Homo sapiens: one gene and its partners. Changing the gene in region 2 together with the main gene of any one other region gives a genetic interaction. Each region holds a gene or a part of one and is shown on either strand. Other genes may lie near its edges. The genes, in order: SEC63, GBF1, CREB1 and UBE3D.

Region 1 (7,026 bases), on a different chromosome or scaffold from region 2:
CAAAGCACCTTCCACTAGCCATTTTAACACATATCGTAATGTGTTATATTTACTTAATTACAGGAGGCAGCAGAGAGTAGTGGCTAACAAGAGATGCTCTGGCATAAGACAGAGTTGAGTCCAACAAACAGTCTTCCACCTGGTAGCTGTATGACTTTAGGAAAGTTGGTAACCTCCTCTAGGACGCAGTTTTCTCATGAATAAAATGAGATAATACATGAATCTAGCTCAAAGTGCTACCGTGAGTGCATTCCGCACTACCCACCTTCAGGCTAGCTAGCACTCACTCACTGAACAGCAACAGAGCTGAGTCTAGATGTAACTCTGGAGTCTACTGAAGGCTTGCAACTTTCCGGGAAAGGCTTGGAGGGTAAATTACGAAGGCTGTTGGTCAATTTTAGTTCCTTGGTTTGTACCTCCATGTTGGGGCTCAGTGATACCCAAAATATGGCATTTTGACATGCTGAATGAAGAAGCCTCAAGGTCTCTCTGACTTTCCTCCCTGCCCTCCTGATGCCCCCCACCATATCCCAAAGCCTTCATCTGCCTAAGATCCAGACCCACCAAAACGAACAACTGCTTTTCTTCTCCTCCTGTAGGACCAAGAAGGTAACCACACCTAAACAGACCCTTCACAAGATAATGTACAAGTTAATCTCTGTTCTCTGATCCATTGTCCCTAGCAATCCTATCAACAGAATTCCTCTTCTCCCCCTTCCCATAACCTGTTTCACCAGGATGGTATATAAGCTTCTGAACTACATTGGGATGTGGGGAATCACTCTGTGGTTCGCCCCATGTTCACATTAAATACATGTGTATGTCTTTCCTCCAATTAATCCACCTTGTCTGAGTTGATTTTTCAGCCAATCTTCAGAGGGCAAAAGGGAAGTTTCCCTTGGCCCCTACATCCACACTTTGTTTTCTAAACAATAAACTAATGCATTTAAAAGAATTATTAGTTTATGCTTTGGGGCACACAATGTATAAAGATGTAATTAGGGGAAATCAAATACTGAAAGAGGTGGGAAAGGAGCTATAAAGGAGCAGAGTTTTTATATGTCAAAGTTAAACTGGTATAAATTGAAATTACAATATTTAGGATGTTTAATGTAATCCCCATGGTAACCACACAAAAAGTAACTACAGAATATACTCAAAAGAAAATGAGATGTGAGCAGTGGCTCACACATGTAATCCCAGCACTTTGAGAGTCCGAGACATAGATCACTTGGGCCCAGGAGTTTGAGACAAGCTTGAGCAACATGGCAAAACCCAGTCTCTATTTAAAAATAAAATAAAATAAAAATTAGAAAATGCAAAGAAATGTAAACATTTCACTACAAAAAAAATCAGCTAAACAAAAAAATAGTAATGCAGGAAATAAGGAACAAAAGGATATATGCCTATAGAAAACAAATAGCAAAATGACAGAGGTCCTTCTTTTTACTTTTTGTGTGTGACAGGGTCTCCTTCTGTCATCCAGGTTGGAGTGCAGTGACATGATCATAGCTCACTGCAGCCTCGATCTCCTGGGCTCAAGTGATCCTCCTGCTTCAGCCTCCTGAGTAGCTAGGACTAAAGGTGCGTGCCACCATGCCTGGCTAATATTTTTTTGTTTGTTTGTTTGTAGGAACACGGTCTCATTATGTTGCCCAGGCTGGTTCAAACTCCTGGACTCAAGTGTTCCTCCCACCTCAGCTTCCCAAAGTGCTGGGATTACAGGAATGAAACACTGCACCTGGCCCTCCTTCCTTAACAGTAATTACTTTAAATGTAAATGGTTAAATGTTCCAATCAAAAGACTGGCAGAATGGATTAAAAGCACCTGATCCAACTACGTCCATCTACAAGAGACTCACTTTATATCCAAAGACACAAACAGATTGAAGGTGAAAGGATGGAAAAAATATTCCATGGAAACAGTAACCAAAAGATAGCAGGGTGGTGACTATAAGACAAAATAGACTTTAAAACAAAAAAGATTACAAGAGATAAAAGACATTACATATTAGTAAGAGGTTCAATACAGCAAGAAGATATAACATTTATAAACATTTACGTATCTAATGATCATCAAAATGTACAATGCAAAAACCAACAGAACTGAAGAGAGAAACAGACAGTGCTACAATAATAGTTTCAGACTTCAATACACCCTCCATCCCCAAAAATGGATAGAACAACCAAAAAGAAGATAAGGAAATAGAGGACTTAACACAAACCAACTAGATCTAACAGACATATACAACGCTCACTACCCTACAGCAGCAGCACATACATTGTTCAGAAGTGCCATGGGACGTTTTGCAGGATAGACTATATGTTAAGCCACAAGATATTTTATTTTGAAAGACAGATATCATACAAAGTATCTTCTCTGACCGTAACAGATGAGTATGACCAATAAAGATGAGTATACTGAGATACACAGAAGTTAAATCAGTAACCAATACAGATGAGTATACTGAAACACACGGAAGTTAAATAACTTGCCTAAAATTACAGTAGGCTGCAGAGCCACATTTCAAAACCAGGCATTTTGAAAAAGTAAGGTTAAGTAAGTTTTGAAAAGGGAAGATCAAGCCCCAAAAGTAAGATCAAGGAGTCAACAAAAACTTTTTTTAAATGATACATTTTATCTCAATTCAAAAGGAATTCTTTCCATAACCTACGGAAAGAATAAAAGCATGCTTTTGATTATTCGAAATTCTAATAATTACAAGCAATCAGTTATTTTCTCTTGTCAGATAATACTCTTGTCAAATATATCAATGAAAGCCTAATGATATAAAATGTTTAAAGTGATAACTCTTCTATTGTAAATCAAAAAAGCAGTAAACAAAATTATGCACTTACAAATAATGGTTGGATTGAAATTCCACATAAACATTAAGAACACTTCTCATTTTAAAAGCACTAGGAAAGACAAACATTAACAATTACAAGAAAGCACAAAGTGGGCAGTACACACAAAAGGTCACAGCACAGTATTGTTGGCAATACCAAAGATGGGTAGTGTTAAGGTAATTATGTGCAATTATTTCAAAATGTTAAGGATATCCAAATTACATAAGGCTCCAATCATAGCACAATGGTAAATACTCTGGAAGCCATTAATAGACAACTATGATAAACTGATTGTAAACTTGTATCATTAAAGTTGTTTGACAAAAATATCTGGCTTTTAACTCCCAGAACTTTACGTTACTGTTCTGTAAGTGCTTCTTAGCTATGTAAAACAAAAAGGCTAACACATTAGTTTTTTGGATTTTGTTGTTGTTGTTAGCAAAGAGCACATAGCAAAACAAATATACTACCTCCCAAAATGGCAACTACAGCAAAAGACCATTACTAAGGAAGCTCTCCTCCAAGCAGCACTTCTCAAACATAGCTACAATTTAGAATCATATAGGGATATTTAAAAAATACCAGTACATAACACCCACTCCAGACCAAATAAATCAGAGTATCTGGGGATGGGTACAAGTGTTTTAAAAAGTTCCCGAAGTGGGCCGGGCGCGGTGGCTCAAGCCTGTAATCCCAGCACTTTGGGAGGCTGAGGCAGGCGGATCATGAGGTCAGGAGATCAAGACCATCCTGGCTAACCCCGTCTCTACTAAAAATACAAAAAATTAGCCAGGCGTGGTGGTGGGCGCCTGTGGTCCCAGATACTCGGGAGGCTGAGGCAGGAGAATGGGGTGAACCCAGGAGGCAGACCTTGCAGTGAGCTGAGACCGCGCCACTCCACTCCAGCTTGGGTGACAGAGCGAGACTCCATCTCAAAAAAAAAAAAAAAAAGTTCCCGAAGTGATTCTAATGTGTAGCCAGGGTTAAGAATCACTATGCCAAGGAAATCTAAGCCCTCCGTGTTATCATTGCATACAGAGCTTTTGTCCTTAATTGTCTGAAGAAATATTCATTTTATTCAGCCAATTTGCAAACCAAGAGAGTAAAACAAATAACTACTAAAAGGGGTATTAATTATAAGTACGCTTAGCTAAACATGTTAAGCAGAAATCAAGGCAAAAGTATTCCATTAATAATGTTTTAGATAACAGGTACGTTCAATTAACATGTCAAATATGCCAATAAACGAACTATTTCCATTTTTCAAACCGCAGACTTTACAAGCTGTGAAATGGTGCTATGCTTTCTGGTGTATTCAAGAGCCCACTAATTCCAAAACAGCCATGCTGAAACGACTGTCAACCTTAAAAATTGAAAGTCCCAAATGTGTTGCAGAAAACACACAAAAAAAAACCTCAATAAAGATTAGTTAAACTGGGCCGGGCACAGTGGCTCACAGCTGTAATCCCAGCACTTTGGGAGGCCGAGGTGGGCAGATCCCTTGAGGTCAGGAGTTGGAAACCAGCCTGGCCAACATGGTGAAACTCTGTCTCTACTAAAAATACAAAAATTAGCCGGGCGTAGTGGCAGGCACCTGTAATACCAGCTACTTGGGAGGCCGAGGTGGGAGAACTGCTTGAATCTGGGAGGTGGAGGTTGCAGTGAGCCAAGATCTTGCTATTGCACTGGAGCCTGGGCAACAGAGCGAGACTTCATGCCAAAACAAACAAAAAAAAAATTACTTAAACTGAACTTTAAGGTTGTGTAACTGCCAGAGCAAACCTTTTCATGCTTTCATGCACATGCTATCTCTGAAAATACTGTCAGAAGTCTGAAATTCAAACGCATGCCTACATTTTTGTATTTGGCTACTTAACTGTTTCACAGGAAAACTAAATAAACTAAGCCTCAAAAACAAGTATTAAAATATGCTGCTGTGGCCAGGGAACAGTGGCTCACGCCTGTAATCCCAGGACTTTGGGACGCCGAGGCAGGTGGATCAATTGAGGTCAGAAGTTCGAGACCAGCCTGGCCAACATGGTGAAACCCCATCTCTACTAAAAATACAAAAATAAGCCAGGCATGGTGGCTCGCGCCAGTTTTCCTAGCTACTCAGGAGGCTGAGGCACGAGAATCGTTTGAACACGGGAAGCAGAGGTTGCAGTGAGCCGAGATCACGCCACTGCACTTCAGCCTGGGTGACAGAGCAAGGCTCCATCTCAAAAAATAAAAATACTTATATATGCTGTTGTGTTTCCCCAAAACTGTACTACGGGGGTCCTCATCTTTTACTTAAAATCCTTAAGAACAAATGTGCTTCAGAATTTTTCAGATTTGCCCCGTCCGGGAAGGAGGTGGGGGGGTCAGCCCCCCGCCCGGCCAGCCGCCCCGTCCGGGAGGTGAGGGGCACCTCTGCCCGGCCGCCCCTACTGGGAAGTGAGGAGCCCCTCTGCCCGGCCAGCCGCCCCGTCCGGGAGGGAGGTGGGGGGTCAGCCCCCCGCCCGGCCAGCCGCCCCGTCCGGGAGGGAGGTGGGGGGGTCAGCCCCCCGCCCGGCCAGCCGCCCCGTCCGGGAGGTGAGGGGCGCCTCTGCCCGGCCGCCCCTACTGGCAAGTGAGGAGCCCCTCTGCCCGGCCAGCCGCCCCGTCCGGGAGGGAGGTGGGGGGTCAGCCCCCTGCCCGGCCAGCCGCCCTGTCCGGGAGGGAGGTGGGGGGTTCAGCCCCCCGCCCGGCCAGCCGCCCCGTCCGGGAGGGAGGTGGGGGTGTGAGCCCCCCGCCCGGCCAGCCGCCCCGTCCGGGAGGGAGGTGGGGGGGTCAGCCCCCCGCCCGGCCAGCCGCCCGGTCCGGGAGGTGAGGGGCGCCTCTCCTCAGCCGCCCCTACTGGGACGTGAGGAGCCCCTCTGCCCGGCCACCACCCCGTCTGGGAGGTGTACCCAACAGCTCATTGAGAACGGGCCATGATGACAATGGCGGTTTTGTGGAATAGAAAGAGGGGAAAGGCAGGGAAAGGATTGGGAAATCGGATGGTTGCCATGTCTGTGTAGAAAGAGGTAGACACGGGAGACTTTTCATTTTGTTCTGTACTAGGAAAAATTCTTCTGCCTTGGGATCCTGTTGATCGGTGACCCTACCCCCAACCCTGTGCTCTCTGAAACATGTGCTGTGTCCACTCAGGGTTAAATGGATTAAGGGCGGTGCAAGATGTGCTTTGTTAAACAGATGCTTGAAGGCAGCATGCTCGTTAAGAGTCATCACCACTCCCTAATCTCAAGTACCCAGGGACACAAACACTGCGGAAGGCCGCAGGGTCCTCTGCCTAGGAAAACCAGAGACCTCTGTTCACTTGTTTATCTGCTGACCCTCCCTCCACTATTGTCCTATGACCCTGCCAAATCCCCCTCTGTGAGAAACACCCAAGAATGATCAATTAAAAAAAAAAAAAAAATCAAAAAAAAAAAAAAAGAATTTTTCAGATTTTAGAAAAGTAACACAGCGTTTACACTCAAACAGACCCTATGGGGTCTAAAGTGCACCAATAACCAAACAAATTAATATTCCAAGACAGAACATAACTATTTATTAAGTGAGATAAAGATTATTCAGTAGCCTCCTGTCAGTACAAGTCGGCAAATTATTTTGCAGCAAACTTCTGAAAAAAGTTCCTTATTCAGAGCTTTGAATGAGGCAGTAATTCAAGATTTCTCTTTCATATTCAAGATACTGCAACTGGGCTGCAGAAAAAAAGTCACTATGATGAAAACATCCTTTTACTACAACTGTAATTCCACAGAAACAACTCAAGTTATTAGGGTAAATCCAAGAAAAAAGTCCAAGTGGTGCCCAACAATTTTCATAATGATTAGAATAGCATTTAAGTATTCACCTTAATTTTCATAACACAATTTTGAGCAAGAGCAAACAAATACATCAAAATATGCATATGGACTAAGGCAAGCCTGAAGCAGAGAGCCGGATGTAAAACGGGCAAACTGACACCCATAATAGTTCACCTAACTTTCTATCTAGCAGTATGGAAACCACACAGGGCTCTGAAGCTAAGCGACCAATGTTCTAATCCCAGTTCAACCATACAGGAAAATTACTTACATGCTCTACCCTCAGTTTCTTTACCTGTAAATGGAGATAATAATAGAACCTACCTCACTGCATTGCTGGAGT
Region 2 (7,024 bases):
GGAGGCAAGGACTTTGAGCAAGACATCCTGGAGGACATGTACCATGCCATCAAGTGAGTATACATAGAGAATAGTGCAGTATCTCTGTTAAGAAGAAGCACATTGCTTCCTTTCCCAGTTTTTAGAGTCATGTCAGACTGCAGTGACTCACATGCCCTGGATTTAGCCTCAGGACTTAGTTGGGCAGCCCCCTCTCTGCCAACTGTTTCTTCCTTAAAGAAGCCCAAATGATATTGGGACTCTAGTACTCTAAGCCAGGGTCCAAAGTGCTGCTCTTAAGTAGGATATCATGGCCCCATTTTCTGAACTTAAAACAGGTACATTTTCCTGTATAGATTACAAGATGCTGGCTGGTAGAGAACCCAAGATGGGCACTGGAGTGTGAGGCCCAGGTTACAGGTCAGAAATGGGCCACTTAGTTTTTTACTGTAAATCAGAAAAGGTAGAATTGTTCATTTTATCACACCTAGTAAGAATGTGTGATCTTACTATAGAACTAAAGGCCTCACTTACAGATAGGGCTTTGAGATTATGGGACACTTCCTTTCTTTCTGTCTGCTCCCACTGGTGGGTGGAAAGCAGACCACTGAGCTGCAGTTCTGATGACCTCTCATCAGTGGAGAGTGCTAGTATGGATGAACTCCTAGTCTTGGTTTGGAACTAGTCAGGTTCAAAGCAGTGCAACTGCTCCTTCCCTTACCTCCTGACAGGAATGAGGAAATTGTAATGCCTGAGGAGCAGACAGGCTTGGTTCGGGAGAACTATGTGTGGAATGTGCTGCTTCATCGAGGTGCCACCCCTGAGGGCATATTCCTGCGTGTGCCTACTGCCAGCTATGATCTTGACCTCTTCACCATGACCTGGGGCCCCACTATTGCTGCTCTCTCTTATGTCTTTGACAAAAGCCTTGAGGAGACAATCATCCAGAAAGCCATCTCAGGCTTCAGGTAGCCCAGCTTTGGCCTTGGTCTTCACCTCCCACTAGCTCTGTGAGCTAACATGGTTTTCTCCATGCCTCTCTGACTCCTACTGTTACTTCATTAGAATGGGGTTCCCCCTGAGTTTTTGGAGGGAGGCTGAAGCTTGGGTAGGCTCAGTCTTAAACAGAAACAAAATTAAAAGGTTTCTTCCTGGGACTGACTGGGGAAGAGCCCCATGCAAGCTCAGGGACTTGGAAGGGCTGCTTGGCCTTCCAGTGACTCTGTTTCTGGGATGGGGGGTAACATTACAGGAAGTGCGCCATGATCTCCGCCCACTATGGCCTCAGCGATGTGTTTGACAATCTCATCATCTCTCTATGCAAATTCACAGCTCTCAGCAGTGAGGTGAGCAGGTGCAGGAACTGTGTACTTGGAGCTCCAAAGGAGGACCTCTCTTTTAGCCATGGATCTACCCTTATCAACAGACCTGGTTGCCCTCAGCGTCTTCCCTCACTGCCCCCACTTGAATATACCAGAGCTTAGGCCATTTCTGTCTTGCACACTCTGGGATAAAACTAGTGTTACTTCATGTAATGGGGATGGGAAAGGAGATACAGGAGTGGGGAAGGCCTTAACTAGGTTAACCCACTCCCACCAGTATTATGGGGGATTGAAGCAGAGCCAACAAAAGGACCTGAGGGAACCATCATAGGCAGAGACCTAAGAGATTTTCCTTTCCAGACATTAGCTCGGCCTTAAGTCTGTTCTCTTCCTCTTTTCCAGTCTATTGAGAACCTGCCCAGTGTATTTGGAAGCAACCCTAAAGCCCATATTGCAGCCAAGACAGTATTCCATTTGGCCCATCGTCATGGTGACATCCTGCGGGAGGGCTGGAAGAATATCATGGAGGCCATGCTGCAGCTCTTCCGAGCCCAACTACTGCCCAAGGCTATGATAGAGGTAATTCTTAGTAGGAGACTAGTGAGCGATAACAAGGCAAGAGCTGCAACATTGTATGCTACCTGTACATAGAAGTAAGTGGTTGAGAGTAATGTTGGGCCTGATGCCTGCCACAGCTCACCAGGAATGCCTCAAATGTAAGACCACAGATCTTGGGGGATAGCTGTAAAAGAAGGCTGGTAGATGCCATTGCCAGTCACCAATTGGCACAATAGCATAGGGGCAGAAGACTAGAGGAGGAAATCCAGAGAACTTTGGTGGGTGGAGGCGGGCACAAATGCAAAGGACACATGGAAAGAAATTATTTTGACTTACTTTTCCAGGTAGAAGATTTCGTGGATCCCAATGGCAAGATCTCTCTACAGCGGGAAGAGACACCATCAAACCGGTAAGAGCAGACCAGAGGCTCAGGGGCTTGGGGAGGGAGAGTCAGAACTTTGGGGCTCACCAGGCCATGTGCCCTTTTTCTACAGAGGAGAGTCAACAGTGCTGAGCTTTGTGAGCTGGCTAACACTGAGTGGTCCTGAGCAGTCTAGTGTTCGGGGCCCATCCACTGAAAACCAAGAGGCCAAGAGAGTGGCCTTAGAGTGTATAAAGGTAACTGCCCATCCACCCCTGGTGAGAAAGCCTAAACACCTTCCTATTAGATGCTACTTGGTGAACTGAAGAATAAATCATCCAGGATTTGTAACCAGGGCTGACTCTGCCCTCTCCCCCTGGCTCTTGGGGACATTCTGTTCTCTTCAGCCTTTGTCAAAGACCCCCTCTCTCTTTTGCCCTCTCTAGCAATGTGACCCAGAAAAAATGATCACAGAAAGCAAGTTCCTCCAGCTGGAGTCACTACAGGAGCTCATGAAGGTAAAGGATGAAGAAAGGAAACATGGAACAACTGGCTGAATCTGGGAGGGGTGACAGGGACAGTATTATTTCTGTCAGGGCAGGGCCAGTGGTTGGCTTCTTTTCCATGCCTACTTTCCTGCTGCTGTTCCCCTTCAGGCTCTGGTCTCAGTGACACCAGATGAAGAGACATATGATGAGGAAGATGCTGCTTTCTGCCTAGAGATGCTGCTAAGGATTGTGTTGGAGAACAGGTAAGATGAGCGTAGTCTTTAGGCAGACCCCATGCTGGGCTTGTGCCAAAGGGATGGAAGCCATCTTGCTGAGTGGGCTCTGGGGAACTGTAGGCAGCAGGGGAGAAGCTTACTCATCATACCTGTCTACTTAGGGTATAATACCAATGAGTCCTGAAAGGCCTAGGGGACCTGTTGCCCAGTGGCCCCTCTGGCTGAGACTATCTTCATTCCTTTATGTCTACACAGGGATCGTGTGGGCTGTGTGTGGCAGACTGTTCGAGACCATCTATACCACCTCTGTGTTCAGGCACAAGATTTCTGCTTCCTTGTGGAGCGGGCAGTGGTGGGGTTGCTACGCCTGGCCATTCGGCTTCTCCGGAGAGAAGAGATCAGTGCTCAGGTAAGCAGAATGCATCTTGGAGAGTGGGCAGGTATGCAAGGGATTAAGGCCACAGTTGTCAATTATGAATATGGCCTGAGACAGAGAGTACATTTAGTGCCCCATAGCATGAGTCCAGTGACCAACCACAGGGCTGGTGCAGTCTAGCGGGTGGTACTGGGAGTGAGCCTGGAATGGCCTCAGGCATGGAGCTTGTGTTTGGCACCTCAGCCTCCTATGAATCTGCTTTGTAGGACTGGCCTGCTACTGCCTTATAATAGTCTCAGCCCTATACCTGGTTTCCTGTCATGCTTATGACCCTCTTGAGATCTCTTTGCTTAACTACAAAAAACAACAAGCATAGAACTAATAAGTGGATTCAACAAGGTCACAGGATGTGAGATCAATACACAAAAAGTAATTATATCTCTACATGCTAACAATGAACAATATGGAAACTGAAATTTAAAATACAATACCATTTACAAGGGTTCCAAATAAAGTGAAATACTTAATATATAGCTGACAAAACATGTATAAGATTTGTATGATGAAAACTACAAAACTACAAAATAAATTGAAGAAGATGTAAATAAATGAAGAGGCATACTATGTTCATGGATTGGAAGGCTCAACATAGTAACTTTGTCACTTCTCCCCAAATTGATCTGTAAATTCAACATAACTCCTATAAAAATCCCAGAAAGGTTCTTGTAGACATAGGTAAGCTTATTCTAAAATTTAGATGGAAAGGCACAAGCTCTAGAATAGCTAGAAAGAATAAAGTGGAAAGAATCACTCTCTCTGGGCCGGTTGCTGTGGTTCATGCCTGTAATCTCAGCACTGCGGGAGGCCACAGCGGGCAGATCACTTGAGGTCAGGAGTTCAAGGCCAGCCTGGCCAACATGGTGAAACCCCATCTCTACTAAAAACACAAAAATTAGCAGGGTGTGGTGGCACACACCTGTAATCCTAGCTACTTGGGAGGCTGAGGCAGGAGAATCGCTTGAACTCAAGGCGGAGGTTGCAGTGAGCTGAGATCGCGCCACTGCACTCCAGCTGGGTGACAGAGTGAGATTCTGTCTCAAAAAAAAAAAAAAAGAATCACTCTGGTATTAAGACTTACTGTCCACTTTGGGGGGCTGAGGCGGGTGGATCACGAGGTCAGGAGATCAAGACCAGCCTGACTAACGTGGTGAAACCCCGTCTCTACTAAAAATAGAAAAATTAGCTGGGCGTGATGGTGAGCGCCTGATTGCTACTCGGGAGGCTGAGGCAGGAGAATCGCTTGAACCTGGGAGGCGGAGGTTGCAGTGAGCCAAGATTGCGCCACTGCACTCCAGCCTGGGCAACACAGCGAGACTCCATCTCAAAAAAAAAAAAAGACTTACTCTCGGCTGGACACAGTGGCTCACGTCTGTAATCCCAACACTTTGTGAGGCCAAGGCAGGCAATCACCTGAGGTTGGGAGTTCGAGACCAGCCTGACCAACATGGAGAAACCTCGTCTCTACTAAAAATACAGAATTAGCCAGGCATGGTGGGGCATGCCTGTAATCCCAGCTACTCAGGAGGCTGAGGCAGGAGAATCACTTGAACCTGGGAGGCAGAGGTTGTAGTAAGCCAAGATCACACCATTGCACTCCAGCCTGGACAGCGAAACTCTGTCTCAAAAAAAAGACTTACTGTATAGCTATAGTAGTCAAGATTATGTGGTGTCGATGGAGGGACAGACACGTAGATCAATGGAAAAGAATAGAGAGACCAGAAATAAGCTCAACACAAATATGTTCAGTGGATTTTTTGACCAAGATGTAAGAACAATTCAGTGGAGGAGGAATAGCCTTTTCAATAAGTGGTGGAGTGATTAAAATCCATAGGAGGAAAAACCAAATGAACCTTGACCTAAACCTCATACCTTACAGGAAAATTAACTCCAATGGATCATAGATTTAAATGTAAAGCTATAAAAACTTTAGAAACAGGAGAAAATCTTCAGGATCTAGAGCTAAGCAAAGAATTTTTAGCATGTTTGGCAGTCCTGTGGATCTGTCTCTTGCCTCAACACTGTCTGGATGGAACAGATCCGGGGGAGACTCTCTTTCAAAAAAAGTAATAATTTTTAGACTTGACATTAAAAGCACAATCTAGAAAAGGAAAAATTGATAAGTTGGGCTACATTAATATTTTTAAAAGTTTTGTTCTATGAGAGCCTATGTGAAGAGGATGAAAAGACAAGCTGTAGACGAGGAGGAAATATTTGCAAATCACATATTTGAAGAAAGGTATCTGTAATATAAAAACTCTCAAAACACAACAGTGATAAAACAATCCAATTATTAATAGAAAATGGACAAAACATAGGAACAGATGTTTCACCAAAGAACACATACAGATGGCAGATAGGCACATGAAATGAAGATAGCATCATTAACCATCAGAGTACTGCAAACTAAAACCACAATGAGGCTCACACCTGTAAGCCCAGCACTTTGGGAGGCTGAGGTGGGTGGATCACCTGAGGTCAGGAGTTTGAGCCCAGCCTGGCCAACATGGTGAAACCATGTCTCTACCAATAAATACAAAAATTAGCTGGGCGTGGTCACACACACCTGTAGTCTCACCTACTGAGGAGATTGAGGTGGGAGGATCGCTTGAACGCAGGAGGTTGCAGTGAGCTGAGATCGTGCCACTGCACTCCTGCCTGGGTGACAGAGCAAGACTCCAAAAAATAAAAACACAATGAGACATCACTACCCACTTTTCAGAATGGCTGAAATAAAAAGTAGTGACAATACCAAATGCTGAAAGGACGTGGAGAAACTGGGTCATTCATATATTGCTGGGTGGGAATGTAAAATGGTACAGCTACTCTGCTGGCAGTTTCTTATAAAATGAAACATATAATTACCATACAACCCAGCAATTGCACCCTTGGACATTTATCCCAGAAAAGTGAAAGCTTACTTTCTCATAAAAACCTGTACATGAATGTTTATAGAAGCCTTAGTTGTAATAGCCAAAAACTGGAATCGGCCCAGATGACTTTCAATAGGTGAATAAACTGTGGTACATACACACCATGGAATACTATTCAGCAATTTAAAGCAACAGACATCTCCAGGGAACTATGCTGAGTGAAAGAAAAGCCAATCTAAAAAGGTTATGTAATATATAATTCCACTTATATAACATTTTTGAAATGACAGAACTTTAGAATTTGAAGACAGGCTGGGCGCAGTGGCTCACACCTGTAATCCCAGCACTTTGGGAAACTGAGGCTGGTGAATCACTTGAGGTCAGGAGTTCGAGACCAGCCTGGCCAACATGGTGAAACCCCATCTCTACTAAAAATACAAAAATTAGCCAGGCGTGGTGGCTCGCACCTGTAATCCCATCTACTTGGGAGGCTGAGGCAGGAGAATCACTTGAACATGGGAAGCAGAGGTTGCAGTGAGCTGAGATCCTGCCTGCACTCTAGCCTGGGCAACAGAGTAAGACTCCATCTCAAAAAAAAAAAGAATTTGAAGACAGATTGCTAAGGATTAGGGATGGGGGCAGGAAGGAGGAGGTGGGTGTGGTTATAAAAGGGCAACATGAGCTGGGCATGGTGGTGCATGCCTGTAGTTCCAGCTACTCTGGAGGCTGAGACAGGAGGATCACTTGCGCCCAGGAGTTTGAGGCTGCTGTGAG
Region 3 (7,445 bases), on a different chromosome or scaffold from region 2:
GAATTGCTAAGAATCACAAATTATGAATGTATAAATAATAAAACAGGCCGGGCGCGGTGGCTCACACCTGTAATCCCAGCTACTCGGGGGGCTGGGGCAGGAGAATTGCTTGAACCCGGGAGGCGGAGCTTGCAGTGAGTGAGCCGAGACCAGCCCACTGCACTCCAGCCTGGGCAATAAGGGCCAAACTCCGTCTCAAAAAAACAAATAAATAAAAATAAAAATAAAAAATACAATTTAAAATATCTCTCGGGCAAGACTAAAGAAAGAACTTATCAGTAAACTTTTTTTTTTTTGAGATGGGGTCTCGCTGTCACCAGGCTGGAGGGCAGTGGCGCGATCTCGGCTCACTGCAATCTCCACCTCCTGGGCTCAAGAGATTCTCCTGCCTCAGCTACCCTAGTAGCTGGGATTACAAGCACGCGCCACGACACCCAGCTAATTTTTGTATTTTTAGTAGAGACGGGGTTTCACCATGTTAGCCAGGATGGTCTCGATCTCTTGACCTCGTGAGCCGCCTGCCTCGGCTTCCCAAAGTGCTGGGATTACAGATGTGAGCCACCGCACTCGGCCATCAGTGAACAATTTTTTAAAAATCTCACAAATGAAGAGTCATATATTCTTTCTTTTTTTTTTTTTTCTTTGAGACGGAGTCTTGCTGTGTCGCCCAGGCTGAAGTGCATGGCACGATCTCAATTCACTGCAACCCCAGCCCCCCGAGTAGCTGGGATTACAGGCGCGTGCCACCACACCCGGCTAATTTTTGTATTTTTAGTAGAGATGGGGTTTCATCATGTTGGCCAGGCTGGTCTTGCACTCCTGACCTCAAGTGATCCGCCCGCCTCGACCCCCCAAGTGCTGGGATTACAGGCCTCAGCCACCGCGCCCGACTTATATTCTTAACAAGAAAAAAAATTCTACTCTACTGATAGTGGCTTGCGGAACAACATAAAGGAAAAATGGTAAGCTACCATTATCAATACTATAATTTTTTCAGTGCTCGGAAATAAAATCATTTCCCCAATCTTTATAGAAAACCTGCCTTTATTGCCTCTTCTTAATTTTCTTGGAAATGACAAATTGCCAATGTGGTCTTTTAAAGAGAAGCAATACAGCAAAGCACGTTTTGGAAAAGTGACTAGAATACAGAAAAATAAGACAGTGCTTCTGCTGCCAATCAATATTTGTTCTTAACCAGAAGGTTTGTACGTATCAATCACAATGCAATCATACAGTGACAGACAAGTATTTTTAAAACAAACTTGTTCGTCTTTTGCACCACCTAAAATAACTGTTCGGGGCTTTACTTTTAAATCACGAAATGAGCCATAAATGTAAAAGATTTCAATAGGCAGCAATCAAAAGTATCTTCTACTAAACCTTCAGAAGTTAGACGCCAGCTGAGGTTAGAATTATAACTTGAGATGGTATTACAAACTTAAATAGGTCATACCGCACGTCCTTCAAAAACTGTCTTTTAATTTTTAATGTGTCAATGACTTTTCTGCTGTCCTCTTTTCCCAACAGGCGAAGAAAAAATACAGCTTGTGGCTTAAATTGTCAATCTCAAGACGGGGGTTACCTACTGCATGAGACAAATAATGGATACTTTAATGTCTATTTTTAGTAGTAGTATTAAATCAATCTCTCATTAAAGTTCACACAGAAATTCGTGGGAAATATGGTAGGGGGAGTGGGACGGAGGGTGAGGGGAGATCCAGATGACCCAAACGCGGTTGGCAAGGTTGCACCCCGCGAAATGATGTAAAACAAGAGTACATCGGCTGATACTCGTTCCAACGAAGTGTTTCAGAATGATAGATCTCAAGTGATGATTACCTTATTAAAAAGGGTTAAAACCGAAACTGTTTTCAAACACCAGCTTCCCTTTTATAAGATCCCAACAGTTTAAAAAGTTATTATAAATGTTTTTCTTAGCACCCTTTCTCCCAAAAAGCATGCATTTCCATGACTGACTTTAAAAAAAAAAAAAAAGCAAAGGGGTGAGGGAGTCAAAAATTCCCCCCAAAAGCACAAGCTCTCATCTCTCAACTAAGCAACACAGGGCAGAAAGCAGCATTTCCTCAACGGTGTAGGAGCGGGGGGGAAAGGGCACGAATAAAATACAGCACGAGAGGAAACCTTGGGTTTCGAACTTTATTGCACAAAGAGTGGAGAGAAGAGTAGGTCAGACGTTGCAGCTCTTCCCCTTGCGAAGCGGGCATGGCAGGCACCGAAGCCACCGGGAAGGCAGCAGGCACCTTCACCTCCTCTGCCCTCAACTGTCGCCTTCTTCCTCCTCCATCCCCCACCGGCACCTAGGCGGCGGCTGCCCCGGAGGCCCGGCCGGGTCGGGCCGGGGGCGAGGCGGGCGGCGGGGGCCGGACGAGCGAGCGGCGCGGGGGGCAGCGCCGGGCCGAGCGGGCGGCCTCCCCCGGGGCGGCTCCGGGTTCCCGGCTCCGCGCCCGGCCCGGCGGCGGCGGCGGGAACGCGGGCGCCAGCTCGCCGCGGCCGGCCGCCCGCACACACCCCCGGCCGCCGGCTCCCACCCCGCCCGCCGCCCGCCGCCCGCCGCCCCCCGCCATGAGCGCCGCCGCTGGCTGCAGGCAGAGTCGCTGCCGCCCCGGCCGCCGCTGGCTCCAGTCCGCCGCCATTATTCTTTGTTCGCTGCGAGCGGCGGCGATGTTGTGGGGCTCGGGCGGAGGCTCCATCTTTACCGCGGCCCCTCCTGCGAGGGGAAGGCCCCAAGCGCGGGTGTCCGGCGCCTCCCCGTCCCCCCTCCGTCCCCCCGGCTCTCTCTGGCTCCTGCCTCCTCCTCCTGCTCCTCTTACCGGTGGTACAAGCTCCTCCGTCACTGCTTTCGTTCACGGCCCGGATCTCGCTGGAGTTTTATTCTCTCCCCCACGTAACACACCGCGTCAAACTACACCTCCGCCGCGTCACTCACCAACACTCCGCTTCTCCCAGCCGCCCGGGCCACAGGCAGCAGCAGCCGCCGCCGACTGAGGAGCCGCAGCCAGGGAGCCAGCCAGCGCCGCCCAGTGCCGAGTGCGCAGCGGCCGCGCACGGAAACAGCCGAGCTAGGCCCGGAGCAGCTCGAGCGGCCCCGCCCCCGCGCTGGGGACGGAACTTGCCGAAGACCTTCGGGTTTCTTCGGGCGACGAGAAGGGGTTCCGCGGGGAGAGGGAAGGCGAAGGCGGGCTGAGCCCGGCGCCGGGAGGAGTGGTCTAAACTCCACCGCGGCTTTCGCATCGGTAAAGCCGGCAGCGGAAATTTGAAGGAGGAAGCGGGGTTTGTGTGTGGCCCAGTGGGGGAATTCCCGAGGGGTGTCGGCGACTTGGTGGAAACCCCCGCTCAGGCCTGCCCCTGCGGCGGTGAGCGGCGGGCTAGAAGGCGGCTGCGGCTGCCCTGGCTCTGCTCTTGACCGCCGCCAGCCCCGGGAACTTTCCGACGCCGCCGGGAGACGGGGGACGGGCAGCCCGGGCTGGGACGCGGCCGGACCGCTGGAGCCGTGCGGGCTGGGGAAGAAGGTCTGCTGCGCCTCTGCCAACGTCCCGGGGCCTGGGACCCGGGGGCGTCGTGGGACCCCCGTGGGGACGGGTTTTCCTTTCCGAGACTCCGCGGAGAAACCTGGCGGCCGCCAGCGGAGCATGCTTTTCCGGGGGGCGCTGGCCCCGATACTGTGGCACCTTGCGGGGCTCTGCCCGGACCATGGCTGACGTCGACGGCCCTCGGAGGCCTCCAAGCCACACAACCTGCCCGGACCCCTGGAAATATGCCCCATCCTACCTCCCCGCCTTTCTCCAGACAACATCCTGTGTCGCTTTCTTTCCTCAGCCTGTTTTCTACAGCAGGGATTCGCACCCACTGCACCCTAAACCCAGCAGGGGGACTTCCGTGGCTGGAAACTACTGAATTGTTCTTTCAGAGGTCTCTCAGGACGGCACCACTAGGTCCCCATTCTCCTTGATAGTGAACTCTGCAGCCCTCTCCTTGGGGTTTCAAGTCTTTTTTTTTTTTTTTTTTTTTTTAATGAGACGGAGTCTAGCCCTTGTCGCCCAGGCTGGAGTGCAGTGGCACGATCTCGGCTCACTGCAACCTCCGCCTCCCGGTTTCGAGCGATTCTCCTGCCTCAGCCTCCCTAGTAGCTGGGATTACAGGCACCTGCCACCACACCTGGCTAATTTTTGTGTTGTTAGTAGAGACGGGGTTTCACCATGTTGGCCAGGCTGGTATGGAACTCCTGACCTCAGGTAATCCACCCGCCTCGGCCTCCTAAAGTGGTGGGGTTACACGTATGAGCCACCGCGCCCGGCCTCAAGTCTTAATCATTCTTTTTCTGTCCTTTAAAGGAGACGTGTCTTTAGGAAGCAGAGAGGGTTCGATTCTGGACTCCGCCCATGACTCACTTCTCTTGTAAAGAAAGAGTTGTCCTTCCTGGTACTCCAGGTACCCTACTGTTTTCTTATGGACTTTGCCCTTAACGAGTCTCCTTTCCTTCTGTTACTCTCAACCTTTCCTTCTCTACCGGCTCTTTCTTACTGGTATTTAAACATGCTTAAGTCTTTCAATTCTTTAAAAAGATTTCTCTTCTCCCTAAATTGCTCTCCAACAACTGCAGCTGTCTCTTACCCCATGGACAGTCTTTCATGTCCCACCTCCCAGCCCTCTCCAGTGTCCCCACCGCTCACCTGAAGTGGCTCTGAATTGTCCACAGACAAGCTTCATGACTGTAAATGCAGCGGATCATTTTCAGTCCTCATTTTACAAGCCCTCATCCCAGTATTTGACGCGATTGACCACAGTTGCTTCCAAATACCCTCTTCCCTCTGGTCTTATGTCCCAGGTTTCCTCCCTACCTGAGTTTGCTCTTTAACAACCAGCTCCTCCTTGATCTACCTCTTACACATTGGAATCATGCTGAGCTGAACCCTGGCCCTCTTACTGAGTCTCCCCATACACTTTCCTAGGTGGTCTTATGCTCTCCCAGCAGCATCAAATACCCTCTGTCAAAGACTCTTCAATCCATAACTCAAGCCTAGATCTTGCTCTGGAATCCTACATTCATAGTTCCCAGCATACTGCCTTTGGTACACTTTCATTTGGATGACTTAGGGCATTTCAAACTCAACCCGTATATCATAATTCCTTCAAAACGCTCCTCCCATAGTCCCTGGTTCAGTAAAGGGTATCTTAACATCTACCCAGTTCATGCCAGAAACCTAGCACACCTCCAACACACAGCAGAATCACCTACATCTGTCTGCTCCCTGGAAAATTGGATTTGTGACCTCTCTCTGTTCCCATGACCATTTTTTCATTCCCATTCTAGTCTAAACCACTGTTGCCTCTTGCTTGAAGTCCCACAGTAACCCATTCAGGTCCTCCAAAACTGCTCTTGCCTCGTTCCAATACATTTGCCATACTGCTGCCAGAGTAATTTTTTAAATATAAATCTGATCATTGACCTGCTTAAATTCCTCCAGTGGTCTCCCTTTGCTTACCACACATTGTCTAAGCTCCATTATCTGTACTTGTCTTTCTCTCCAGCCTCTCCATCTGTCCCCCTAGCTGCCTGCACTCCTGCCATAGTATTTTAATTTTTTCCAGGCTCTCCTCTTTTTATTCCCTACTGTAGGCTCTCACTTCAGGGCATTTACACATGCCCTTCCCTTCCCCTGGAATTTTTTTCTGTCACCCATTCCTCCTACTTAACTGTAACTTATCACTTTCTTTTCCAATTCCTACTTCTCATTATTTGTTTAGTGTCCATGTAATTGTGCAGGTAAGGACCACGTCTGTCTTGTTCACTACCAGCTTTTCCTCTCCCTAGCAACAGCACAATGTCTAGAATATAGTGGTACTTGTTAGGTATTTATCGAATAAATAGTGAATTTCTGAGTGGTCCCGGGCAAAGTTTTCTCAACATTTGAATTCAAATCCTGGCTCTCAGTGAGTTCAGGTTGCCGTAGTAAAGTACCATATAGACTGGTGGCTTATAAACAACAGAAATGTATTTCTCATAGCTCTGGAGGCTGGATATCTGAAATCAGGCTGCCAACATGGTCAGGTTCTGGTGAAGGCCCTCTTCAGGGTTGTAGATGGCTGTTTTTTCCCTTTACCTCACAATGCAGAAAGAGAGCAAGAGCTCTCGGGTTGCTTTTATAAGGCACTAATCCCATTCACAAGGGGTTTACCTCCCAAAGGCCTCATCTCCTAATACCATCACATTGAGGGTGAAGATTTCAAAAATACGAATTTGCAGGAGACAGGGGTGGGGGTGAATTCATTGCACTGGCTCAGCCACTTATTAGCTAATGACTTTGGGCAAATTGTTCACTCTTGTGCCTCAGTTTTCCCATCTGTAAAATAAAGATGATAATAGCACCTCATAGTGTTATTGTAATGATTACGTGACATAATACATGTGAAGTATACTTGGAACAATGTTAGGAAAAATGTTGCCTATTACTAGCTTTTACTTGGATAGCTTATCCTCGTGTCAAATACGTTTTCAAAATTGAGTTCATCTTCCTGCTCTTCTTACCGTGGCTCTATACATGATATCAAAAAACTTTGGAATTATTTACTCATAACCTATAATTATCACCCACCAAATATGGTGAGTTTTTATTTAAAAATGTCCTCATATTCATTCTTCCTTTTTATATACACTAACCTTCATTTAGACTCTATTATCATTGATTATTTTGCTAACTTCCTAGGTGTCTTCTAACTGGAGGCTAGCTTTCCCTATTCATTTGGGCCCTTACTGTCAGACCAGTGGGCCTCAAACAATTATTAAAACATATATTCTTCTTGACTTCTGCTCAAATGACCTCCGTTCCCACCTAACTTTGTTCATTCATTTATTCAATCATCCATTCATTCCAATGCAAGTTATTTTACTACTAACATTTTGGGTATACTCTAGATTTTCAGCCTCTCTACTTTGACATTTCTCTCTTGGATATTCTCTCTTCGGATATACTCTAGCATTTTCAATCTCACTATCTGACATTTCTCCTTTCAGCATCCAAGTTTTGTCTCTGGGATTTGGAAGCCACCTGCATTTTAAAAGAAATTTTTTCCAGGATCAGTCTCTCGCTGTGTTGCTCAGGCTGAAGTGCAGTGGCTGTACACAGGAGCGGTCATCGCATGTGACAGCCCCACACCCCTGGGCTCAAGTGACTCTCTTGCCCTCAGCCTCCTGAGTAGCTGGGACTACAGGTGATCCCCCATTTTTGACTCAGTTTTCCAATTGCAAAATGTGGTCAATATCAGGGAGATGAAAGAGGAGCACACATGGATGTAACTTGATAGAGTATAAGAAAAGTATCTTGAAAGAGGTCCAGAATAGGGGGAAGGTCCCATAAGATGATTATAAAAGGCTTCAAAGAGAAAGTAGTATTTGAGAGCTTTTCTATAATCACAACTTCCTCTTC
Region 4 (7,026 bases), on a different chromosome or scaffold from region 2:
CTTCCTACAAAACAGTTTGATTCAAGTTCACACCAGTACATATCTATTCATATTTATTCATTCCACAAATATTTATACACCATCTATTATATGGAAAGCACTCAGGCAATTAAGTGCTGAGGAATCTGTTTTGCATACTCTTTCATGCACTATGGAACAGGACTTTGATAATTTTCCTTTTCAGATATTTGAGCAAAATATATTAAAAGTGTAAAGAAATAGGAGACCAGTGAACACAAACAATATGCAAATCAGCACATAGCAGTCAATTTATTTTGTCCTATAGTTTAAACAATGTTTGCAGATTTAAATTTTTAAAAATAATTCCAGTTTTGATATTTGTATATTCAGTTACAGAATACAGAATATGGATGGGCAAAAACCCAATACTATGTCCCTGGTGGTCTCTATTCCTCCATCTCTAAAATCACAATCCCAGAAAACACTCCACTGTGGCTTTCATGCTTGCCTTTCCCAAATCTCAGAACCCAACACAAAATTCCTGCTGTGGTTACTCTTGTGAAAGAGGTAACTGTTGTGAAGGAGAAGGTGATGACAACACAACATCCAGCCTCCCATGGCCTCTTCCCTGAAACAACACTTTCTCTGCCCATTATTAGGTGCAATCAGGGAGTCTACTTCCCAGCTCGGTGACCCTAACCTTCTTGCTATGGTTATTCCAACAGTCATTCCTAGTATTTATCCTACAACATTTAAGTGCCATGACATCTCTTTTCCCTACCCTTTGTTCCTAAAACTAACCCTGCCCAACTCAAACTAGTTATTCACTAACCCAGGACTTGAGCAAAAATTGCTCTCCAGTAAAAAAGAAATGAAACCCTCTCTATCTTCTCTTTCCTCACAAAAGCCAAGAGCACAGACTCAGGGGAATACTCAACATCTCCTAAATGGCTCTTCCAAACACTCCTCCTGACCCCATCTCCAGGATCCACACAGCGCAGATGAAAGGTTTATTACAGATGAGGCAGCAGCGAAGTGTCAGTGTGCAGCTGAAAGAATTACAATCTTTCTCTGATAATAAACATCACATAAGTCTTTTACAGCCTATTTCCCCCTTTGACATAATTTTAATCCCCCAAAGCATATATTACGTACATTGTAATAGATGTAATGAACCAATAATTTTATACAATAAATAACCCTGAGGTCTTAGAAAAAGCAAATTTTCCACTGCCTTACCGAATCATTATACCAGTTACAAAATGTTGTAAATATAACAGGCATAGTAAAAGTTAAAATCAAATTAAGTATCAAACTCAACTGTAGGACCTTTTGTGTACTGTTTTCTCTATTTGGAACAGTCCCCACATGGATAGGATTTCCTTATTCAGGACTCAGGTCAAACATTACCTCCTCAGAGTGGCCTTCACTGATCATCCTTCAGCCAACCCTAGTCACTCCCTATCCCATTATTCTGTTTTATATTATCATAACACTTTTCTTAATATTTAAATTGTTTGCTCATTATCTGCTCCCACCAATTAGAATGTAAGCTCCATGAGAGCAGACACCTCCCCTACCTTGTTCACTCTGTATCCCCAGAACCTAGATTGATGCCTAGCACATAGCACAAACCAAAATATTTGTTGAATGAATAAATTTCCATGTAATGCTTTAAAATCAATCAGGTCTTATACAACTGCCATCTGATTTAATCTTCCCATCTGTGAGCCAGAAAATTTTACAATTAAAGAAACAAGGCAGTGGGTAAATGGGAAATCTCTATACTTTCTGCTCAATTTTGCTGTGGGTGGAAAAGAAAGAAGGAAGGGAGGGAGGGAAGAAGCCTCAGAAAGGTTAAGTAACATGTTCAATTGCATACAGCCAATAACTGGCAGAGCTGACAAAGACCCTAGAGCTTCTCAACCCCTTCACCTGGGAAAAGTTCAACTTATCAAAGGAAAAATCACCTTTGGTTTATAACAAAAAGGTAAATACAGCAGCAGAAGTGCTAATATTACTCACTTGTGCCTAATTTTGCTTGCGTCTGCAGTCGCAGGTGCAGTCCATCTCCAACAACAAACTGTAGCCCACGGCAAGAGGAAGGTACAAGCCTGACCTCTGCTGGAAGCTGGATTTCTGTGCAGCCTTCAGGGGTTTTCATCTGGAGTGAAGATGGCATTATGGAAATATTCATGGGCATACCTCCTTCTTTCGGTTCTCTGGTAATTAAAAACAAAACCCAAACAAATTATTTCTCACAATGAAAACCACATGATGAAAGAAACAAAAATGGCCAAGGATCTCTTTCTTCCTCTTCAATAGGAGCTCTAAAGTCACTGCCCCAGAAAAACAGCAGCAAGCAGATCATAAAGGAAAGCAACCTACACTAGATTTAGATCTGATCAGAGTGCCCTTCACCATCACCATAATATGCAAGTCCTGGGACAGATTTTTGGTTCTTCCTTCTGAGAAGAGCACTAAAATAATGTTTTATAGTAAATCAGAGCAAAGTACTGTTATTTCATATACAAGATTTTAATAAAGAGACCAAGATTCAGTGAAACAATGATACAAGACAAAAACCTGTCAATTTTAAGAATAAAAAGAATTAATGAAGAAAACGATACAGTGATGTATGAATATCAGGTGTGAAAGGACTTACTAATCCAATTCAGAGCAAACACAAATTACTCAGTATAGGCAATAAAGAGTAAAACACAGTCCCTGTCAAAAGCCCCCAGGCATCAAAAGTATAGAGGGGATAAAGGCATCTATGGAAATGACCCTCCTCTGAAACTGCAATACGCTTAGCAATGCAACAGAGGTACAAAGTACCATGGCTCCCTCTTAAGTGCAGACAGCAGGTCATCCACATGGTGTCAACTAAGTGCAGACAGCAAGCCATTTGCTTGAGTGTCATCTGAGTACAGAGGGTAGACCATGTGCTCAGGTGTGGATCTTGGTTAGGCCTTAGAAATCTGCCTTAGAAAATCTTATAGCTACTTTCTGGCTAGTTCCTTTTCAAAGCATATGGATCTGCACTTAGTTAGCAATACAGAATATTAAGCATCTGAGTTTTTTGCAGGGATGACAGTTTCAAACCTGAGTCAAAAGTTCAATTTCAAGAAATGGTGTTTAAGAAATAATGATCCTCTAAAACAAGAGTCAGCAACTTTATTTCTGTGAAAGACCAGATAGTAAATATTTTAGGCTTTATGAGCCATGTATGGTCTCAAAGTAGAATACATATTATACTTTTTATTTTTTAAAAAACAACCCTTAAAAAATGTAAAATCAGCAGGTCGAGGTAGCTCACTCCTCTAATCCTAGCACTTTGGGAGGCTGAGGTGGGAGGATGGTTTGAGCCAAGAAGTTTGAGACCAGCCTGGGCAACAAAGCAAGGCTCTGGCTCTACAAAAAAATAAAAAATAAAAAATCAGCTGGGTATAGTGGCACGCACCTGTAGTCCTAGCCACTCAGGAGGCTGAGATGGGGAGGATCACTTAAGCCCAGGAGGCTGCAGTGAGCCATGATCACGCCAATGCATGTCAGCCTGGGCGACAGATCAAGAACCTGTCTAAAAGAAAAAAAGATACAGAAGAAAAATCCAACTCTTAGCTCACAGGCTGTACCAAAACAGGCTGCAGGTAGGATTTGGCCAATGGGCCATAGTTCTCTGACCACTGCTCTAAAGATAACACAATGTCCATTTGCTACCTCAATGACTTTCAAACTAGACTGTGTAGAGTTGACACTTCCAAGTGCCGCAAGAGATACCACTGGGTTCCTAAGTCCCCATTGCCACCCCATCTCTGGTTTATCACATTTCTTCCCAGTCCCAAAAACTTTAGTCATTTTATAGGGCCAAGCAAGAGAAGCATCATTGCAAGGGTGGTGACACAGTGGCCCAGCACGGATTTGAGAAACTAAGCAGACTGTGGAGGGCATCCATAGGGCCAAGCAAGGGAGGCATCAGTGCAAGGGTGGTGACACAGTGGCCCAGCATGGATATGAGAAACCAAGCAGGCTGTGGAGGGCATCCACCAGGAGGACCACTCAGCAGGGGTGTCAAATCCCAAGACAGGTGAGGAGGAAATCTGAACAGGAGGTGAGGCCAGCTCAGGATGGGGTTTCAGAGCCTGTCTTAGCTCAGCTGCTATAACAAAATACTATAGATGGGTGGCTTAAACAACAGACATGGCAGAGTAAGGAAGTTCAGTGCCTCTTCCTCTTCATATAAGGACACTAATCTCATCAGGGGGGCCCCGCCCTCAAGAACTCATCTAAATCTAACTACCTCCCAAAGCCCCATCTCCTAACACCATCACTTTGGGGGTTAGGGCTTCAACATGTACATTTTGAGGGGACACAAACATTCAGTCCATAACAGGGTCCAAGCAGGTGAGGAGAGTGTCAACAATGAGCAGGGGGAGGTGGCAAAGGATGCCAGCAGACTATTAATTACATAGAGGGAGACTGACAAAATAAATAAATGCCACTAGGACAATGAGGGCCATGATTCTCACTGTGGGAGAATGGAGTTACAAAAAGAGAAAGCGAGGAAACTAGAATAGACCCTATGGTGGTGGGGCAGAATTAGAAATACCTGTGTGAAGTCATGGTTTTCAATGTTTACAAATAGATACAGTAATATTGATGGTTGTAAATGCATGTATGTACATAGGTATGTAGGCACAACCATACATAGACATCATATATAAGTCATACACACATACCCTAGTTCTGGGAGAAGCGACATCCAACAGTGATGAGTACACTTAGTGCCCAGATCTTGGTTTGTAAAGGCCATTTTCTGCTTTAAAAAACGAAATGAACAAACCAGAAACAAAGTTCCTCAGTAAAATGACTACATCCAGGGCTGTAACAGGGAAAGAATGAAATATGCCTGGAACATGTTGCTGGAACATGAAGAAATCAAAGAATGACAGGTACCTACCAAAAAAGACGCAGAAACCATCCAGAAAGGACTTCCTTGGCCACATCTGGTATAATATGAACAAAAAAGTAGCCCATTGAATAAAATAAAAAATAAAACCCACTGAGTAACCCACAGTAAGAATCATGTATCCTTACTGACACACAAATGAATAAAATGAAACTCTGATGAGGAACAGGGTATTTACATAATCTCAGAATACCTCTCCAATTACTGATTATGAAGAGAAAAAGAGTAACTTTAAGGTAGAGAAGCATGGCAGACACTATCTTACTTTAAGTGCTCAAAGTTAACATAACCAATTTGATGGAACAAAGCAAAATCATGTGCCACCTGACAGGAAGCCTCACTTCTGTTATATTCCTGCCAAAGATGCAAAATCTGAATCTTGTCTTGAAGAAACATAAGACAAATCCAAATGGAAGGATATTCTACAAAATGATTGTACTATCATCTTGCAAAGTGTCAGGACCATGAAAGTCAATGGAAAATGAGGAACTCTTCTAGATTGAAACAGACAGAGGAAGCATGACAGTGAAATGCAATGCCTTATTCTGAACTGGATTCTTCTGTTATTAGGGATATTATGTAGACAACTGGTAAAACATGAATGATGTAAGATGGTAGCAACACATTTCCCAATTGTGAGTGTTGGATGATGGTTCTTTAGGAGAATTCCTACTTTAAGACTAAGTTTGATTGACATAGTTCATACAATAATTTCATACTTGAGGCTTTCTTCACCATTGACTTGTATTCTGTCAGGTATCACAACTGCTTAAAACTATCCAATGACTTCATCTCTCACTCTAACTACAAGCTAAAGTCCTTTCGATGGTCCATAAGGCACAGTGGTATAGCAGGCCCTGCTGCTACAAGCTTTGGAGAACCTGTTGTTAAAATTCTAGGAGTTCTGCAAAGCAGGTCAACTCACCTCACCCAGTTGGTAGGCTGAAGGTCATACGTGGTGAAAGTATTCACACCAAAGAAATCAACAAATGCTTCAAATCAAGACCTTAGTTTGTCTTTTTGTTTATTTTCATGGAGAGTAGGTTATTAAACATGTACCAGCACACTGCCATAAGATCTTTTACTATGTGTTCCCCCAACTCACCCGCATCTCTCTGAACTAGGCACCCTTTCATACTCACTTTCTCTCAAAGGGAAATTGTCTCCCACCAGGTATGGCAGTTCTACACCTCACCAGTTACAGTTTAATACTCAAATGTTAGTTTCTCATTTGAAATAAAAGATTGTAACTTTTTTCTCCCCATTCCTTTTTTGTTTAATTTTTTTCTCCACTTCTATCAAATATATATTTATTTTGTATATTCTCTGCCGCCTCTTCTCTACTGCCACCATTAAACCCTATGCTCAACAAAGGCAGGTGTTTTTGTCTTTGCTGTTGTTACTGTTCATGGCTGTATTCTCAGCACTTAGAATTTGAATTTTTGGCACTAGAGTAAGAACACAATAAACATCTGTGGATTGAATAAATGAATGGCCAAAGTTTATCCCAAAATGCTAAGATATCTTAATATAAATAGATCTTTACATCTGTGAATGTAAACTTTGGAAGCCAGACTCTTTTTCACAACCCACTATGGCAGGAATTAATCCATTCCTGAGAGAGAACTCACCCAACCATCTCCATGGGAGGGCATTAATCTATTCAAGAAGAATCTGCCCTCAGGAACCACGCACCTCCCACTAGGCCCTATGTCTCAACACTGCCACATTGGGGATCAAAGTGAGAAAACATAGGGACAAAACACATCCAAACCATAGCAGTTAGGAACAAGAACACCAATATTTAAATTAACTATAAAATATACTAAACATTTTAATTAGAACACACAGATCATCAGAACAGATTTAAAATCACCCAACTATATATTTTTAAAACTAGCATACAGTTTTATGCTATTTTTAGGGAAATACAGTATTTTTACAGCTTTTTGCTTTATACAGAAAGACATAAGAAAGGTTAAAAAGGTAGAAAGGACACACTATGCAAACAGTATAGTCAACTGATTTCTCATGAAGACTGAGTTATTTTAATGGGAGAAATGATGGCCTTTTCAACTGATGGTGATAGAATAAAT

Evidence for each region.
Region 1: changes in GBF1 (region 2) and SEC63 together harm fitness more than expected from each alone (negative genetic interaction), as found in Homo sapiens cells (one study listed by BioGRID).
Region 3: changes in GBF1 (region 2) and CREB1 together harm fitness more than expected from each alone (negative genetic interaction), as found in Homo sapiens cells (one study listed by BioGRID).
Region 4: changes in GBF1 (region 2) and UBE3D together harm fitness less than expected from each alone (positive genetic interaction), as found in Homo sapiens cells (one study listed by BioGRID).

What each region holds. Positions count from the first base shown.
Region 1 is NC_000006.12:107,948,189-107,955,214, forward strand, and holds part of SEC63 (translocation protein SEC63 homolog), read right to left. Parts: intron 1-7,026. UniProt on the Homo sapiens protein: Mediates cotranslational and post-translational transport of certain precursor polypeptides across endoplasmic reticulum (ER). Proposed to play an auxiliary role in recognition of precursors with short and apolar signal peptides.
Region 2 is NC_000010.11:102,367,508-102,374,531, forward strand, and holds part of GBF1 (Golgi-specific brefeldin A-resistance guanine nucleotide exchange factor 1), read left to right. Parts: coding exon 1-53; intron 54-710; coding exon 711-947; intron 948-1,231; coding exon 1,232-1,325; intron 1,326-1,703; coding exon 1,704-1,880; intron 1,881-2,203; coding exon 2,204-2,268; intron 2,269-2,353; coding exon 2,354-2,477; intron 2,478-2,666; coding exon 2,667-2,738; intron 2,739-2,876; coding exon 2,877-2,971; intron 2,972-3,199; coding exon 3,200-3,353; intron 3,354-7,024. UniProt on the Homo sapiens protein: Guanine-nucleotide exchange factor (GEF) for members of the Arf family of small GTPases involved in trafficking in the early secretory pathway; its GEF activity initiates the coating of nascent vesicles via the localized generation of activated ARFs through replacement of GDP with GTP.
Region 3 is NC_000002.12:207,525,521-207,532,965, reverse strand, and holds the start of CREB1 (cyclic AMP-responsive element-binding protein 1), read right to left. Parts: upstream 3,005-7,445; 5' UTR 2,832-3,004; intron 1-2,831.
Region 4 is NC_000006.12:83,055,840-83,062,865, forward strand, and holds part of UBE3D (E3 ubiquitin-protein ligase E3D), read right to left. Parts: intron 2,184-7,026; coding exon 1,987-2,183; intron 1-1,986. UniProt on the Homo sapiens protein: E3 ubiquitin-protein ligase which accepts ubiquitin from specific E2 ubiquitin-conjugating enzymes, and transfers it to substrates, generally promoting their degradation by the proteasome.